Linked DNA regions of Homo sapiens: region 2 is linked to region 1. A link means that fine-mapping ties the variant in region 1 to the expression of a gene that starts in the linked region. Tissue or cell type: blood mononuclear cells. Region 1 holds a variant in brackets; the other region holds the start of a gene. All regions are shown on one strand. Distances are between the middles of the regions.

What was found. PIP is the estimated chance that this variant, and not a neighbour inherited with it, causes the effect.
Region 2: it holds the start of PPIL4, and the variant in region 1 is fine-mapped to the expression of PPIL4 in blood mononuclear cells (TOPMed, PIP 0.98).

The regions. Positions count from the first base shown.
Region 1 is chr6:149,508,246-149,516,612 of GRCh38, forward strand. It overlaps PPIL4 (peptidylprolyl isomerase like 4), which reads right to left. Exons shown (of 13, transcript NM_139126.4): 12 at 3,910-4,057. Among named protein-coding and RNA genes, the nearest start is that of ZC3H12D, 27 kb to the left of the region's middle. The variant C/T (reference allele first, on the strand shown) is at 3,370.
Region 2 is chr6:149,542,156-149,550,155 of GRCh38, forward strand. It overlaps PPIL4 (peptidylprolyl isomerase like 4), which reads right to left and starts at 3,888. Exons shown (of 13, transcript NM_139126.4): 1 at 3,781-3,888. The coding sequence starts at 3,850. RefSeq lists enhancers at 3,778-4,077, 4,781-5,457.

The DNA.
Region 1 (8,367 bases):
GTTAAAATTCTAGCTCTCCCACTATAAAGGCCTAAGGGCCTGTGGGATCAGTATCTTCATATCTAAAGTGAGATAAATGAATTAGATAAGGTCTAGGTCCTTTCCAGTATGAATTTTTAAAAGTTATATTATTTATACATTTAAAACATAAGACAAGATGATTAAACTACCATGTGGCAAAAAAAGAAAAGAAAAAACGAAGAACACAAAATGGCCAATTTAAAGCAATTAACCTAGCAAATGACTTGAAATAAGCAATCAAAAAAAGTCTAATCTAATTAAAAGCTATCCTTGCTCAAGTCTCTGGGACTAAATCAAAGATCTGGTTAAATCTTAGTCACCAAGATAACATTAAATCACTAAAATGACAGAAAAAGTACAGTCAAGAATACAAACACTATGAAAACCCCAGTGGAAAACTGACAACCAGCATGAATACTTCTCAGCAAGGCAACCCCCAGCTGAATACGCATTTCCTGTAACCCCAGTAAAACCCAAACCTCAACAACACAAAAACCATCTCTGGAATTAAGACATGAGGTGGAAAATTAAACAAACGTTTTCGAATTGATTAGTAAGGCTAGTTACTCAATAAAAAACAAAGAATTTGAAGAAATAAGTTAAAATACTCTTGGGAAACCAGACTCACTAAGCAAAACACCGACAAACAGGAAAATATGAACTATAGCTGAAATTTGTCTAGTACTGAAAATTCTCTTTAATGAATTTTAAAAAATAAAAAACAAAATAATAAAAAATCGGGGGGCCATTAAAATCTTAAATACTGATGCTGAGTTTTATTAGGAAGAAGAGAAAATTAATGTAGCTATATCATTAAATCAAAGTACAAAACTTTTTAAAATTTAATATACTTTAAGGGGAGAAGTTAGGAGATCATTATTCAGAATTTAATAATTTTATAGTTAATATTGCCTTAAAATTTCAACTTAAAATTGCCTTAAAATCTTTTTAAAAATACTAATAGCATTCCCCCAAAATCTTGATGCTTTTACTCCATGCAAAATGAGAAGGATATTTGCTACTGTAAGGTTTCAAGTAATCAAACAGCAGAATCAGAAAGACTCACACAAAAAAAACACAACCAGTCTGAAATTTTTTAGACCTCTGATTATCTCAAACACACCAATGTTTATTTATCTCAGGCTTAAATTCATGGACGGTTCCATGTACAAGTGCAGGATGAAAAGCTGGAGCTAAAAGCAGCACATGGAGGGGGAAAGAATTCAGAGTTTTTAGTGGAAAACATGCTAAACATTCACAGGAATGTGATACAGCCACCAGTAAAGAAGACTGATGCGACCTCAGACTAAAGTAATAGAGTACAGACATTTAAGAAGGAGGAGATGTGTTCCTATTAGATCACATTGGAATATTATACTATGGGACAAATTTTATTAAAATAACATTAGAGTTTAGGAAAGAAAACTGATGAGAATATACCCCAGGTAAGAAGACGAGCAAAAGTAGTTAGGAGTATGTTTCAAGTTAAGAGTAGTTAGTTTCAACTATGAAACTAAACTGTGGTTCCACTACTTACTAGCTGTGTAAAACTATGGGCAAGTAACAATTTTTGTTCTCACTTTGTTGTGTGAAAGGGGGATAAAAGAACCCACCTTACATTGTAAGGACCAAAAAATATTAACTACTACTACTTTTTTCTTTTATTTAAAATTTTTATAGAGACAGGGCCTCCTATGTTGCCCAGGCTGGTCTTGAACTCTGGGATCAAGCGATTCTCCTGCCTCAGCTTCCCAACATGCTGGGATTACAAGCATGAGCCACTGCACCTGGCCTACTACTACTTTTATTACCACCGATTCATGTGAGAAATATTTGCAGGAACCAACAAAAGTATGGCCTGAAAACGGGATGAGGCATGAATGATGGCAATCTTTAAACAGCTAAAGGGCTATAGAAAGAAGAAATTCTATCTCTGCTGGATTATAGCAAAGAGCTAACTACATATATCAAATATTTACTTGCTAAATTTTTTTAAATCAATAACCCATAAAACACATAAAATAGTTACCCACAGAGGGAAGAAGGAAAAGGGGAGGGAACAAGAATGGAAGCTAGGTTCTCTAAATGTACCATTTTGTAGATTTCACTTTGGAAACAGTTTTTAAAACTACAAAACAAAAAATTGTTAAAGCAACCCTTAAAACATTAAAAATAAATAAATAAAAATGAAACAGGGCCGGGCGCGGTGGCTCACGCCTATAATCCCAGCACTTTGGGAGGCTGAGGCAGGCAGATCACGAGGTCAGGAGTTCGAGACCAGCCTGGCCAACTTGGTGAAACTCCATCTCTAGTAAAAATACAAAAATCAGCCAGGCATGATGGCAGGTGCCTGTAATCCCACCTACTCGGGAGGCTGAGGCAGGAGAATCGCTTGAACCCAGGAGGCGGAGGTTGCAGTGAGCCGAGATTGCACCATTGCACTCCAGCCTGGGCAACAAGAGCAAAACTCCGTCTCAAAAAAAAGAAAGAAAAGAAACACTTTAACTGAAATATGAATCTAGTTAATGTCATAACCACAGAGAGAAACTATTCCAAGTAACTCTAAAACTAGTAATTTGCTTTAACAGTTAAAAAAAAAAAGTAGTAACAATAATAACCAGTGTAGAAAATGTTTGCACACGCATTTTTTTCACTGAATCTTAACAAAATGCCTGTGAAGTATTTCTCACTTTTCACAGAGGATGAAACTGTGGCTCAGAAAGTTAAACAACTTGTCAAGGTCACTTTGATGGCCAGCAGTATGTAAACCTAGCTCTCCTGACAGCAAATCCTTGACTCTGCCTATCATACTACATTTCTCTATTTCTGCATCTTTGGTTAACATTCTCACCATCTTAAATTCCCTCCCTTCTCACCTCAGCCCACTGAAATCCTTCTCATCCACCAGGGCCCAGCATAAATGTTTCTATGTGGTAAAACAAAAGCAAGGAGCTCTGATGTAAAAAAAAAAAAAAAATTTTTTTTGGAGACGTGGTCTGGCTCTGTCATCCAGGCTGGAGGGCAGTGGCATGATCTGGGCTCACTGCAGCCTCTACCTCCTGGGCTCAAGCGATCCTCTCAAGCTCCCAAGTAGCTGAGACCATAGGTGCACACCACCATGCCTGGCCAATTGTGTGTGTGTGTGTGTGTGTGTACTTTTTGTCAAGGTGTGTGTGTGTGTATTTTTTGTCGAGATGGGGGTTTCACCATGTTGCCCAGGCTGGTCTCCAACTCTTAAGCTCAAGCGATCTACCTGCCTCGGCCTCCCAAAGTGCTAGGATTACAGGCGTGAGCCACCGTACCCAGCCTGTAAATTGCTTTTTATTTAACTAAGAACCAAAGCACAGG[C/T]TGGAAATAATCACTTTTCTTCACAATAAATTTTCTTTGGGGAATTTTTATTATTTTTTTTAAATGTGCTGTTCAGGAGAGCTTTTAGCATGCTAAAGTTAATTACCAGTGCTGTTTTTCTTATATACAATACAGCAGGATATAAATGTTTTATAGGATGTAAAATCTCAAGAGCCCTTAAGTGCTATACATAACACTTGGTGATAAATTAAGCAGATAAATGACAAAATCTTTTTCAGCACAACCACACTTGTTTCTGATGGGAATAAAGGAGTATCCACAGGTACGGAAATCACTCTTGCTTCACAATGTGGAAGTATTTGATACATTAAGTTATGTCAAAAATGATCTTTTATCATTTGTGATAAATATTTTTGAAAATTAAAATCCCATACCCCAGTGCAACCATTCTGCTTCTTAGGAACAAACCCATCTCTGCTTAGAACTATCCCTTACCTCCTAAATTATATCACTAAGACATCATTTACAGAGGGATAAAATATTTATTTCTCCACATCTAAGTCTGGACATTAGAGGTACCTGATTAGTATTTTTGATTGGCATGTAGTCCTCATCTTCTTTCTCTTCAGAACAGTGATGGGTTTTCTTCTTGTGTTTTTTACTTGTGTGTGAGTGACTTGATTTTGAGTCTTCGGCCTGCTCATCTAATATAAGATCGTATTTTGTACTGCAGTAGTTAGTTAAGGATAAATGTGATAAATAATACTGGTAAGACATCAAAACTTAAGATCTGGTAAACAAAGGAGGTCATAAGGCTAAAAGTAACTAAAGCAAAAAGCATCTCAAAAGAATATAGTACATTTCTAAAACAAAACTAACATTTTCTTTCATTATATAGTCAGGAGAAATGGAAAGAATCCTAATCCTAAACAATCTTAAAATAAAGACTAGTAGGCAAAAAAATTAGGAGGAAAAAATAAACGTATTTGTCAATAATTTAAAAAATTTAAATTTAGAAAATGAGGGACATCTTTAACTAGAAAAAATTATTATAAATTCCAATGCCCAGAAAAGCTATATAAGATAACAGGTACATTTGTATGTCTCTTCTTTTAGTTCAATCAAGAGGAAATTCAGCAATGCATATCGAGTTATCATGTTTAAATTCTTCTTATTATTTTTTTTGAGACGGAGTCTTGCCCTGTTGCCCGAGCTGGAGTGCAGTGGCGCGATCTCAGCTCACTGCAACCTCCGCCTCTCAGGTTCAAGCAATTCTCCTGCCTCAGCCTCCCGAGTAGCTGGGACTACAGGCACATGCCACCACGCCTGACTAATTTTTTGTGTCTTTAGTAGAAACGGGGCTTCCCCATGTTGGCCAGGCTGGTCTCAAACACCTGACCTCGTGATCCACCCGCCTCGGCCTCCCAAAGTGCTGGGATTACAGGTGTGAGCCACCACACCTGCCCATCATGTTTAAATTCTAATAAGAATTTATGAATACAGTTAAATGAACAAAAATATACATAAAAGCCAGGCGTGGTGGCTCACACCTGTAATCCCAGCACTTTGGGAAGCCAAGGCGGGCGACTCACTCGAGGCCAGGAGTTCGAGACCAGCCTGGCCAATATGGTGAAACCCCATCTCTACTAAAAATACAAAAATTAGCCGGGCATGGTGGCGCAACCTATAACCCCAGCTACTCGGGAGGCTGAGGCAGGAAAATCATTTGAACCCAGGAGGTAGAGACTTTTGTGAGCCGAGGTTGCACTACTGCACTCCAGCCTGGGTGACAGAGCGGGGACTCAGTCTCAAAAAAAAAAAAAAAAAAAAAAAAAAAATATATATATATATATATATATATATACATATAAAAAATATGCATAATAGTATTACTTTTAGTAGCAAAGTAGGAACAACAAAATATCTAGTAATAAAGACATACTTAAATGCATTATAGTACTTCAACAAGATACAATATTATAAATGAAGTTATCAACAACGATAAATGCTACAGAAAAAACCCTAGAAAGGTGTTTATGAAAATTAACATGAAAAAAGCTTAAAGCAAAAACAACATATACCATACAACGATTATAACTTTACATAAGAGAAAGGTTTGAAAGAAACAAGGAGAAATAAAAAGTATCATGTGTCTAGGTGATGAAGCTACGAGTGAATCTTTTTAAATTTCATCTAAATGTGTTAAAAATGTTTTAATGTTTTAATTCAGAGATAAGTATTTTCTTAAATATACTATAATAGAATAAGAGAAAATATAAAAGAGTTACGATTTCTGCTGAAAATAATCTCAACCTCAAAGGTGGATTTTGAGGAAGACTGACATGGGCTGGAATGGTGGTTTTCCAGAGAAAGGTTATGAGGAAGCCCAACAGGCAGAGCTATGCTAATTACATGTGGGACCACAGTAAACGCAGACACACTTCCCTCAGGACTAGAGGCTCGTGTCTGCTTCACAAAGCCACAACTCAACACTTTCCACAGGAATGTCTCACTTCTACATAAGATCAAATGAAAGACATTGTTCCTCCTAGCTTCCCATGAGATGGCTAAAGAGGGTTAGTCAGCTCGTACCATTCGGTTATGACTCCATTATCTCCAACTTCCCTCTTTTCACTATGCTACTCTGTTTCCGGGGCATCTTCTGGATCTTGCCTTTTCCAGATACACATTCCATAGCTCCCACCTATGATTTCATCCTAATGTGTGCTCTGCACATGCTGCTCCCTCTGTCCAAATTCTTCAGAGCACTCAGTCTTGCTCTGTTGCCCAGGCTGGAGTGCAGTGGCCTGATCTTGGCTCCCTGCAACCACCCCATCCAGGGTTCAAGCAATTCTCCTGCCTCAGCCTCCCAAGTAGCTGTGATTACAAGTGCACACCACCACACCCAGCTAATTTTCGTATTTTTAGTCGAGACAGGGTTTCGCCACGTTGGCCAGGCTGGTCTCAAACTCCTGACCTCAAATGATCCACCTGCCTCAGTCTCCCAAAGTGCTGGGATTACAGGCATGAGCCACTGCGCCTGGCTCAGAGCAATGTTTTTCAAACTGATGACTATAATCCATCAATGGGGTATAAAATCTATTTAGTGGGCCACAACAGCATTTAAAAAAAAAAACAGAAATACAGTATATGCCTAAAAAAATTTTATTTTATTAATCTTTTGGTTCAAGTGTGTGTGTGTGTGTGTGTGTGTGAATGTTTGTACTGTGACTGTATTGGGTTAAGACAAAAACTGTATTTTTTTTAATTTTTTTTTTGAGACGGAGTTTCACTCTTGTTGCCCAGGCTGGAGTACAATGGCGCGATCTTGGCTCACCACAACCTCTGCCTCCTGGGTTCAAGCAATTCTCCTGCCTCAGCCTCCCGAGTAGCTGGGATTACAGGCATCCGCCACCACGCCTGGCTAATTTTTTGTATTTTTAGTAGAGACGGAGTTTCTGCATGTTGGCCAGGCTGGTCTTGAACTCCCGACCTCGGGTGATCTGCCCGCCTCGGCCTCCCAGAGTGCTGGGATTATAGGCATGAGCCACTGCACCCAGCCAATTTTTTTTTTTTTTTTAAGAAAAAAAAAATGGAGACCGGGTCTCGCTATATTGCCCTGGCTGCTCTCAAACTTCTGGGCTCCAGCAATCCTCCCACCTCGGCCTCCCACACTGCTGGGATTACAGGCATGAGCCACTGCACCCAGCCTATTTCTTAAATGATGGATCATACGAAAGAAGACAGCACTCCCATGAGCCACTGCACCCAGCCTATTTCTTAAATGATGGATCATACGAAAGAAGACAGCACTCCACCTCAGCCCTCCTATCTCCCATATTAGTGTCACAGCTTTAATGCCACTTTTTTCAGTGTTGAGGGTATTCTCTAACCTCTCGCCCCCTATTATGAGTCCCATATCTCTTTGCAATATTTATTTGCAATAATTTAGACGTATTTAGAATGGTAATTATTTAATGTCTGGTTTTTTTTCCCCACTCCAACAGCAAAATGTAAGCTCTATGTGGGCAGGAACTGAATATCTTTCATTGCTAAACTGAGTATGTGACAGATGCTTACTAAGTATCTGTTGATTACTTGTCATACCCTCAAGACACTTGTTGTATCTCCTGCTTCCTCACTTACCCACTATCTTGTACTTATCACTAAAATCAACACTTTCAGAAGACATCAAATCCCTCTCCCTTTGAATAAAACACAAATTTGTGAGCTCACTGCCATCTTTTCTCCAATTTCTTCCCTGAGGTCTAGTTGGGCCAAGTTATTTCCTTCTCCTACTTCTATTTTTGATTCTTCTTATTAATAATCTATACTTTCACTAATTTCTCTTTCTCTTAAGGCCCATAAAGTAGATGCCACCATGCCTTCTTAACTGACTTAAGACAATTTATCTGCACATCAGACTATCCCCTAACAGCATTTCTCTCTTTTGCATCAACTTCAAAAGGCTAGAAGCTACACTATTCCATATAAGTATATGTGTGGTTGTTTCAATTAATTAAAATTAAAGAAAACTTAAAATTCCCCTTCTTCCAGCTATAGTTATTAGTAATAAGCCTAAATTTAATTTCAAAGATTTGGTAAATAAATATCAAATGTATTCCATTCATAACTTTTATGATTTTGAGCTTTCAATCATATGCCCTTGAATGTTGATCTTTTCTGACCAAATCTCAGCTTCTTATTTGGTCTGTCTGCATGTGAAAGCCTCTCCTTATGCTGATTTTATCAGCTTTCTTCAGACTTTATCCAGTTCTAACACCTCACAATGCTTTATACATTGCAGACAATCAACACATCTTAAAACATGAATATAGACCAGGTCAACCTGATATTCATCTTTCTTGATGAGTACTTGGAAAAGAAATGTCTACATATGTAGAAAAAAAAATCCCTGAAATACCAATAGAAACTAGGAAACAAAGACACCATTTACCAGAAAGAATCACAACAGAAATAACTCTTGCAATGTGTGGAGTGATATATTTATAATGGGAAAAATTAGTGAACCAATTT
Region 2 (8,000 bases), 34 kb after region 1:
TGATGGATTGATTTTATTACGAGAAAAAAGAACACTTAAAGAGCATATTGTAGTAGAAAAGGATCTAGCAGAATATATAAAAATGGATACGGATTATATCAATTAGGAAAAAGTCAAACACCCGGGGTCATTTTTTAAATAATAGTTAAACAGCCCTTTATAAAAATCCATACACTTATGAACAACCTTTCTCATACAAGTTAATCTGCTTATCCAATAAACATTTACTGAGTACCTTCTAGATGCCTGACACTGCCATCACAAATGCCATTAAACTGTGGTCCCTGCTCCCAAAAAGTTCACAGTCTAGTCGTGGAAAGACACATTAACAAGCTCTTAAGGCACTAAGTTAGAAACCAAACAGACAGTAAGATATATGAGGCAATCCCTGCCCTCAAAAAGCTTACATTAAATTAGGGTCCTTACATCTGAACACAAGTAGTTACATACTGGGCATATCTAATTAATAACATGTGTGCCACTTATTTAAAATGGTAAAAAAAGTAGTTTTAAAAATTCCACAAGAGTTCAAAAGATTGTTTCTGGCTAGGGAAATTAGAAAACCTCAGGGAAGGTTAAGGCAAGCATTAAAAGAACTGGACTAGCAGAGAGTGAAGGGTGAGCATTTTAGGTCTGGAAGACTATGAAAAGGCCTGGAAGTGGAAATTTAAATGTTTTAGGGGAGGTCCAAAACACCAAAGTTCTGTAATAGTCTGGTATTACACAGTAATAGAGCATGAAAAGACTGGAGAGATAAGATGGGGCTGAGCTGTTGAAGAGTGCTGAATATCAGTCTTGCAGTTGTTTTTCTTGAATATATTTCTGGGCTTCATGTTTAACAGATAGGGGTGGTCCTTTTACTAGAAACAAAAATAATGAATTTAGGCAATGATCATCAATGGCTGCCAAAATCTTTAGGTCTTTCATCAAAATCCGATGGGAACAATTTATAAGCGCAACAAGGCCTTAACCCACTGACCAATTTTAACATCACAGAGCCAACCAGACATCAAGTGCCTCCTGAATGTGATGCAGCTGAAAGTACACACTATCTTATATGAAATATTCTTGCCAAAAACATTAAACTGGAACCTAATCAAGGCTCTGAAGCTAAAGAACAATTTATAGGAAACAGGGGACACAAAAATATGTTAACGCACCCAGTAAATAATCAGTCGAATCCAAACAAGAGAAATTCTACAAGACAAAGCACCCAGGTTGTTTCTCAAAATTTTTTCAAGGAAAAAAGGGGGAGAACCAATAGATTAAAACATATATGAGACATTTTAACCAATATATGGACTTTGGGTCCTAATTTAAATCACCATATTTTTTAGAAGTTTATGAGATAATAAGAAAGTTTAAATGATACTAAAAATTATTGCTAGTTTTTTCAAAGTGTGATAAGATCTGTGGTTCTGTTTTTTTATTCTTTTTTACAACTTTTTCTCTTTCCTTTAGTATTTTTCCCTTTTCCCTGTCAAGTTTTTTTTCTTTTTTAACCTGTCACTTATGTGGTACTTAAGCTCATAGTTCCATTTTTTCTTGTTTTTTTTAAAGAGACGTTATATTTTAGAAATACATACTGAAGTAATTACAGATTAAATAGATGCACTGGAGGTGGGGGTATTATAAATGAAGCAAGATTGGCTATGTGTTCACAGCTGTTAAACAAAGCTGGTCATGTGGACATGAGAGTTCATTTACATGATTCTCTCTACATCTGTGTTTTAAATTTTCTATAATAAAAAGTTAAAAAAGAAAAGGAAGAAAGAATGGAAGGTAGGTAAGTCTGGATATGTTGATCATAGATTGATAAGTGAGTATAAATATAGCAGGTACACATGTAAGCACATCTCCAGTCATATGCTTACAAATATGTACAGGGGGTGGACTTATTGTTATGGGCTTATCTTTGCAGACCCACTGCTTGTTAATTGGGTGGGGTAGCTCTACACCCCTTTATTTCCTCATAACTCTGGGAAAAGAGGCCCATTTATTTTGCCAGGTGCTACTCTACATGGGCAGAGCGTCAAAGGAACTCAAAGAAAAGCAAAATCAAGAGATAAAAAACAAAATTCCCTATGATATTCTTTGAAACACTCGATCCAGCCACTCGATCCAAGCTTACCCCAGTATTATGAGGCAACCAATTATTTTGTTTATGCCAGTTTGAGTTGGGTTTCTATCACTTGAACAAAGGGTCCTAACTAATACAACACATTTATATCCATTAGTCATCATAATGAACCTCTAGTGTGTGCCCTAAAAGTAGCAGACATTGTACTGGGTACTCAGGATATAGAGATGATAATTATGGTATAGTTCCTGCTCTCATTGGAGTTTACATTCTTGAGCGAGGGCACGCTTGTAAACAACACCAGGATAATAGGTAAATGTTAAAATAAAATGTGTCATGTGGTTTATAAAAGACCTAAGACACAGCAGAGGAACCCTCAGGTAACTCTGCTTAGAAAGGAGGGAGAGCTTCAAAGAAGAGATGATGCTTGATCTGAGATTTAGATAATAAGTAGTAAGTTTGCCAGAAGGACAATAGTGGAGAAGAATATTGTTTAGAAGAAACAGCAAAAGAATGGTAACAATGGTACGGGAGAGTTTGTAGTGTTTTCGCCAGGTGGAGAGGAGGGAGGAATAGCTGCGTGCGAGGGAAAGCGGAGCACGGCAGGAGGTAGTTATTGTACAATATTGCAACTTATTTCACCTTCTTTGATAGGCTCTGCATTCCATGTGGGTAGGACCCTGTTTGTAACTAATCTCTCCTGGTCTCAGTTTCTTCCTGACTCTGATACATTCTCCACACCGCTGCCTATTATCTTCTCAAAACAAGTATGCCATGCCTCAATCCTGCTTTTAAAGTCTTCAAGGACTCTGATCATCAGTAGGGCACACAAGACTATTCACGACTGACCTAGGCGTATCTGACCACACTCGAGTCTACCATTCCACGACTCACACCAGTCCTTCCAGCCACACCAAACTACTTGCCGTTTCCAGAAAATTCCAAACAAAGAAAGTCCAAGCTAAGAAAACCCTCATTCCCATTCATCTTTGAAAGAACTAGTTCAAGTGTTCTATATAGTATTCGCTAGCTTTGCTTCTTCCCACCCCCCACCAAAGAAGCCGCCCTCTTCTGGTTTCCGTGGCAACTTACACATTCTTCTACCATAACACATAGAAAACTAAAATGGGTTCCTGTGTCTACTTCCCCCAGTGGAAAAATCAGACCCTCGGGGGCAAGAAGCCAAGCCCAGGACTTAGCCCAGTGCCTCGAAGGCTCAGTCCACACTCCAGACAACCTCTTCCTCCTCCACCTAAGCGGTATGCCCACACTCGCTGCGCCAAGCACACCCTAACTGCCTTCATCAAGATTTAACCGATTACACACCAAGCAATAGTTCCTATGTTCCTCTCACGAGTAAACACAATAAAGGCACAAAAGCTATGGGTATTGTATGTGCAGCTCGAATCACACACACACACGCCCCACACACACACTCCCAAAGGCAATTAATGACCGCAAGCACCGTCCACCGGACTGGCCAACACAAAATACGGGAGAAGGGCTGCCAAGGCTCAAACGAATTCCCGTCACAAAAACTTTTCTAGCCAAGGCCGGTTAATAAAATAGCCCAGTCGCGGGCACCAGCAGCCCAGAAGCTCGAGCTCTAGCCAATCTCTGCCCTGGACTGCGCAGAGAAGGGAAAGTAGGGAGACAAGCTCGGGGGCCCCGGCGACAGGTGAGTGGGGCTCAAGCCTCACCACGCGGCCGTTCTTCGGTGTACAAGTCGATGACGACGTCGCCTAAAGTGGTCTCCAGTAGAACCGCCATGGCGCCCGCTCCTCCTCCGCTACAAACCCCGGGAGGAGGGGGGTGACAGGCGCAGGCCGACGGCGTCGTCTACGCCACGCGTCACCCTCGGCGCGACCCCTTTTGCGTCATCTCGCCGGCGCCGCCCCCGGTTCCGAGCAGTTCCTTCCGGTCGGCGTGCGGGCGCCGGGCTGCCCAGCTGACTTACGGATCGGGTTGGTCCCGCCCCCGGCGCGGCCGTTTTGAAAATCCTGGTCCGCCCTTGGCGATTTTGGTGGAAGCCTGTCCCTCAGAACGGTCTCAGTATAGTGTTTTGTGCCCCGTTTGTGTCCGTCTCAAGAGCAGAGCGGCCCTCCGCGCGGCCCTTTTATCCACCAGGGGGCGCCCGCGGCGGGATCTTCTCTCCACCTATTTGGGCGGACTCCTCCGGGTTTCCTCGTCAGTCTCCTTTTCGCAAAACAACTTTGGGCCTCTACTAGGGGTTTCCGATTCTAAGAACTAACATTTTGTTTTGTTTTCTGTTTTGAGACAGGGTCTCGCTCTGTTGCCCAGGCTGGAGTGCAGTGGCGCGATGTCGGCTCACTGCAACCTCCACCTCCCGGGCTCCAGCGATTTTCCTGTCTCAGCCTCCCAAGTGACCACAGGCGCGCGCCACCACGCCCGGCTAATTTTGTTCTTTTATTTTTTGTAGAGATGGCGGTCGGGGGAGGTGGTCTCACTATGTTGCTCAGACTGGTCTCAAACTCCTGAGCTCAAGGAGTTCGAACTCTTCCCGCCTTGGCCTCCCGAAGTGCTGAGATTACTGGCGTGAGCCACTGCGCCTGGCCAAAACTAACATTTTGCCATGCAAGTTTATTCCCCAGACACTCTTCTGGGCAAGCCTGTCACTCTTTCTTATGACATTTTACACATAATCTCCAATAACTTCACATCTGACGAAAAGCCAAAGCTTTTTTTTTTTTTTTTTTTTTTGAGACGGAGTCTCGCTCTGTCGCCCAGTCTAGAGTGCAGTGGCGCGATCTCGGCTCACTGCAAGCTCCGCCTCCCGGGTTCACCCCATTCTCCTGCCTCCGCCTCCCGAGTTGCTGGGGCTACAGGTGTCCGCCATCACGCCCGGCTAATTTTTTGTGTTTTTAGTAGAGACCGGGTTTCACCGTGTTAGCCAGGATGGTCTCGACCTCCTGACCTCGTGGATCCGCCCGCCTCCGCCTCCCAAAGTGCTGGGATTACAGGCTTGAGCCACCGCACCTGGCGGAAAAGCCAGAGCTTTTATAATGATTTACAAGATCCTCTCCTACCCCATCCTACGCCATCTTCTTATTCCTCTGAAGCCACAGTAGACAGTTTGCTATTCCCTGAACACTGCTGACATACTCCTGCCCCATGGCCTTTTCACTTGCCTTGGTTGAGGGACCTCTTCCTCCAGTTATTTGTATGGCTCCCATTCACCTCCTTCAGGCGCTTTGGCGTCGGTCACCCTGTCAGTGAGGCCCTCCATGGCTGCCATAATTAAAATTAACCCCACAGACACTTCTTTTTCTCCATATAGCTTTTTCTCCAGAGTACATTTTACAATCTAACATGCTATTTACGAATTTGTTTGTTTGTTTATTGTTACTAGAATGTGTGTTCCAGGATATTCCATCTTGTCTGTTTTGTTTAAAGCTATATCCCTAATGCGTATGACAGCCTGGTACACAATGTGCAAATAAATGTTTGTTGAATGAATAAATATGGTTTTTCGGTTTGGGTTTTTTTTTTTTTTTTTGAGACGGAGTCTCGATCTGTTGCCCAGGCTTGAGTGCAGTGGTGCGATTTCAGGTCACTACAACCTCCGCCTCCTGGGTTCAAGCGATTCTCCTGCCTCAGCCTCCCCAGTAGCTGGGGCTACAGGTGCCCGCCACAGCGACTGCCACCACAATATTCATGGCTGGGCGTGGTGGCTCATGCCTGTAATCCCAGCACTTTGGGAGGCCGAGGTGGGCGGATCACCTGAGGTCAGGAATTTGAGACCAGCCGGGCCCATCATGGTGAAACCCCGTCTCTAATAAAAAATACAAAAAAAAAAAAAAAAACTAGCTGGGTGTGGTAGCGCATGCCTGTAATCCCAGCTACCCAGGAGGCTGAGGCAGGAGAACTGCTTGAACACGGAAGGTGGAGGTTGCAGTGAGCCGGGATTGCGCCACTGCACTCCAGCCTGGGTGACAGAGCGAGACTCCGTCTCGAGGAAAAAAAAAAAAAAGAAAGTGCTCCCATACCATGTTCCATTTATGCCTGATATGTGTTTAAGGGTTAAAAGTAAAGCCAACAAAGGGAATCCTAAGACTGTGAGTTCTGGGTCATTGTAAGGTTCCTCAGTGCTGTTGAACTGAGCAAACCATTTAGGACAGACCCAACAATTAGTCTTGTTGTAGAAATGGGCCATGGCGGATATTGTAGGAGCTAAAGGGTGTGACGTATTACTAAGTCCCATAAAAAATCCTAACAGACCTAGTGATAGTAAAACACTCATGTTTACTGTTGGTTAATAACTGTTATTCCTGCTGTAAGGATAGTAATTAAGCAAAATGCTACAGTAATTGAGATTCTGTTCGATATTACACCCTGAGGGTGCTATAGTATATAGTAATACTTGGCTTAAAAGGAGAGGTAGAAACGGCAAAAAGTATTTGGTGAGGTAGAGGCGAGACTAAGGTGAGTGGTTCTTACTCCGTTACTTATCTTTTGTGATTTTCAGCTTATGGTCTCCTACTTCTTCGCATTGATATTCAGGTCATTTCTCTGGGCTGTCAGGGGTTGCTCCCTCAGCTTTCCAGGCTTTGACTCGAGTGTGATGTATCCAAAAGTTGATTCCTGTAACTTTTATTGCTGAGGGAGTTGAAAGAATGGTGTAAGGCCCTTCCCAGCTTGGGCTTAGGAAGAGAGAGAAGGGAGAGCCTTCACCAGTACCAAATCTCCTGGGTTAAATAGAGGTGGTCCAATTTCCTGGGGTTGGGGCTTTGCTAATTGTGCTAATTCCTGTTGCAAGTGAGCCAGAGAAGTTACCTGCTTGACTAGCTCAGAGGTTTCTTGATCTAATAGAAAATCATTGGTAAAGAAAGGTCATCCATACAGCATCTCAAAAGGGCTAAGACGAAGTTTTGAAGGGGTACTTTTTATTCGTAGTAAGGCCATAAGAAGAAGAGTGACCCAAGGAAGGTGAGTTTCTTGGGTTAATTTTCTGATGTGTCTCTTGATCATATCATTAGTTTTCTCTACCTTTCCTGAGGATGCGGGTCTTCAAGCACAGTGGAGATGGTATTCTATGCCTAGTGCTTTTGAGACCCCCTTGTGTGACAGCTGCCTTAAATGAGGGTCCATTGTCATTTTGAAGATACCTAGGTAGACCAAAGCGGGGAGTTATTTCATTAACTAACAAACACTTTTATTACCTCAGAGGCTTTTTCTGTACGGCATGGGAATGCCTCTACCCAGTTAGTGAAGGTGTCTGACCATACCAGCAGGTATTGGATGCCCTTTGTCTTCGGCATGTGGGTGAAGTCTATTTGGCAGTCTTCTCCTGGATAACCTCCTATTCTTTGGGGTTGAGGAGGAAGGAGTCGCCTGTTAAGGATTATTTTTAAGACAGACTTCACAAGCATTAACAACCTCCTTAACTGTTTTTAGTAAGTTATCTCCTGAAAACAATCTCTGGGCACATTGATATGTCTTATCCTTTCCCAGGTGAAAAGCTTGGTGAAGGACTTCAAGGACTTTCCATTGGCTAGAGGCTGGCAAGTGGAGCTTGCCATCCTCCGACTGTCACCATCCTGAGGGCCGAAATGTATACCCTCAAGAAGTGGCCCATTCTGCTTCTGTAGGGGAGTACTGAGGTTTAATTCCTCTGATGGAGCCTTCCCACACTAGAGGAGTTTGAAGTGTTAATGTCTTGAGGCTTTCTTGCCGCTGACTTAGCTGCCTGATCAGCTAATCTGTTTCCTTCAGCTACCTCATCTGTTCCCTTTTGATGTCCCCTACAATGCATTACTGCGATTTCTCATGGAAGGAAAACTGAGGATAGTAATGTATTAATTTCCTGGTGATATTTTATAGGGGATCCATTGGTGGTAAGAAAACGCCTTTCCAGGCCGGGCATGGTGGCTCACGCCTATAATCCCAGCACTTTGGGAGG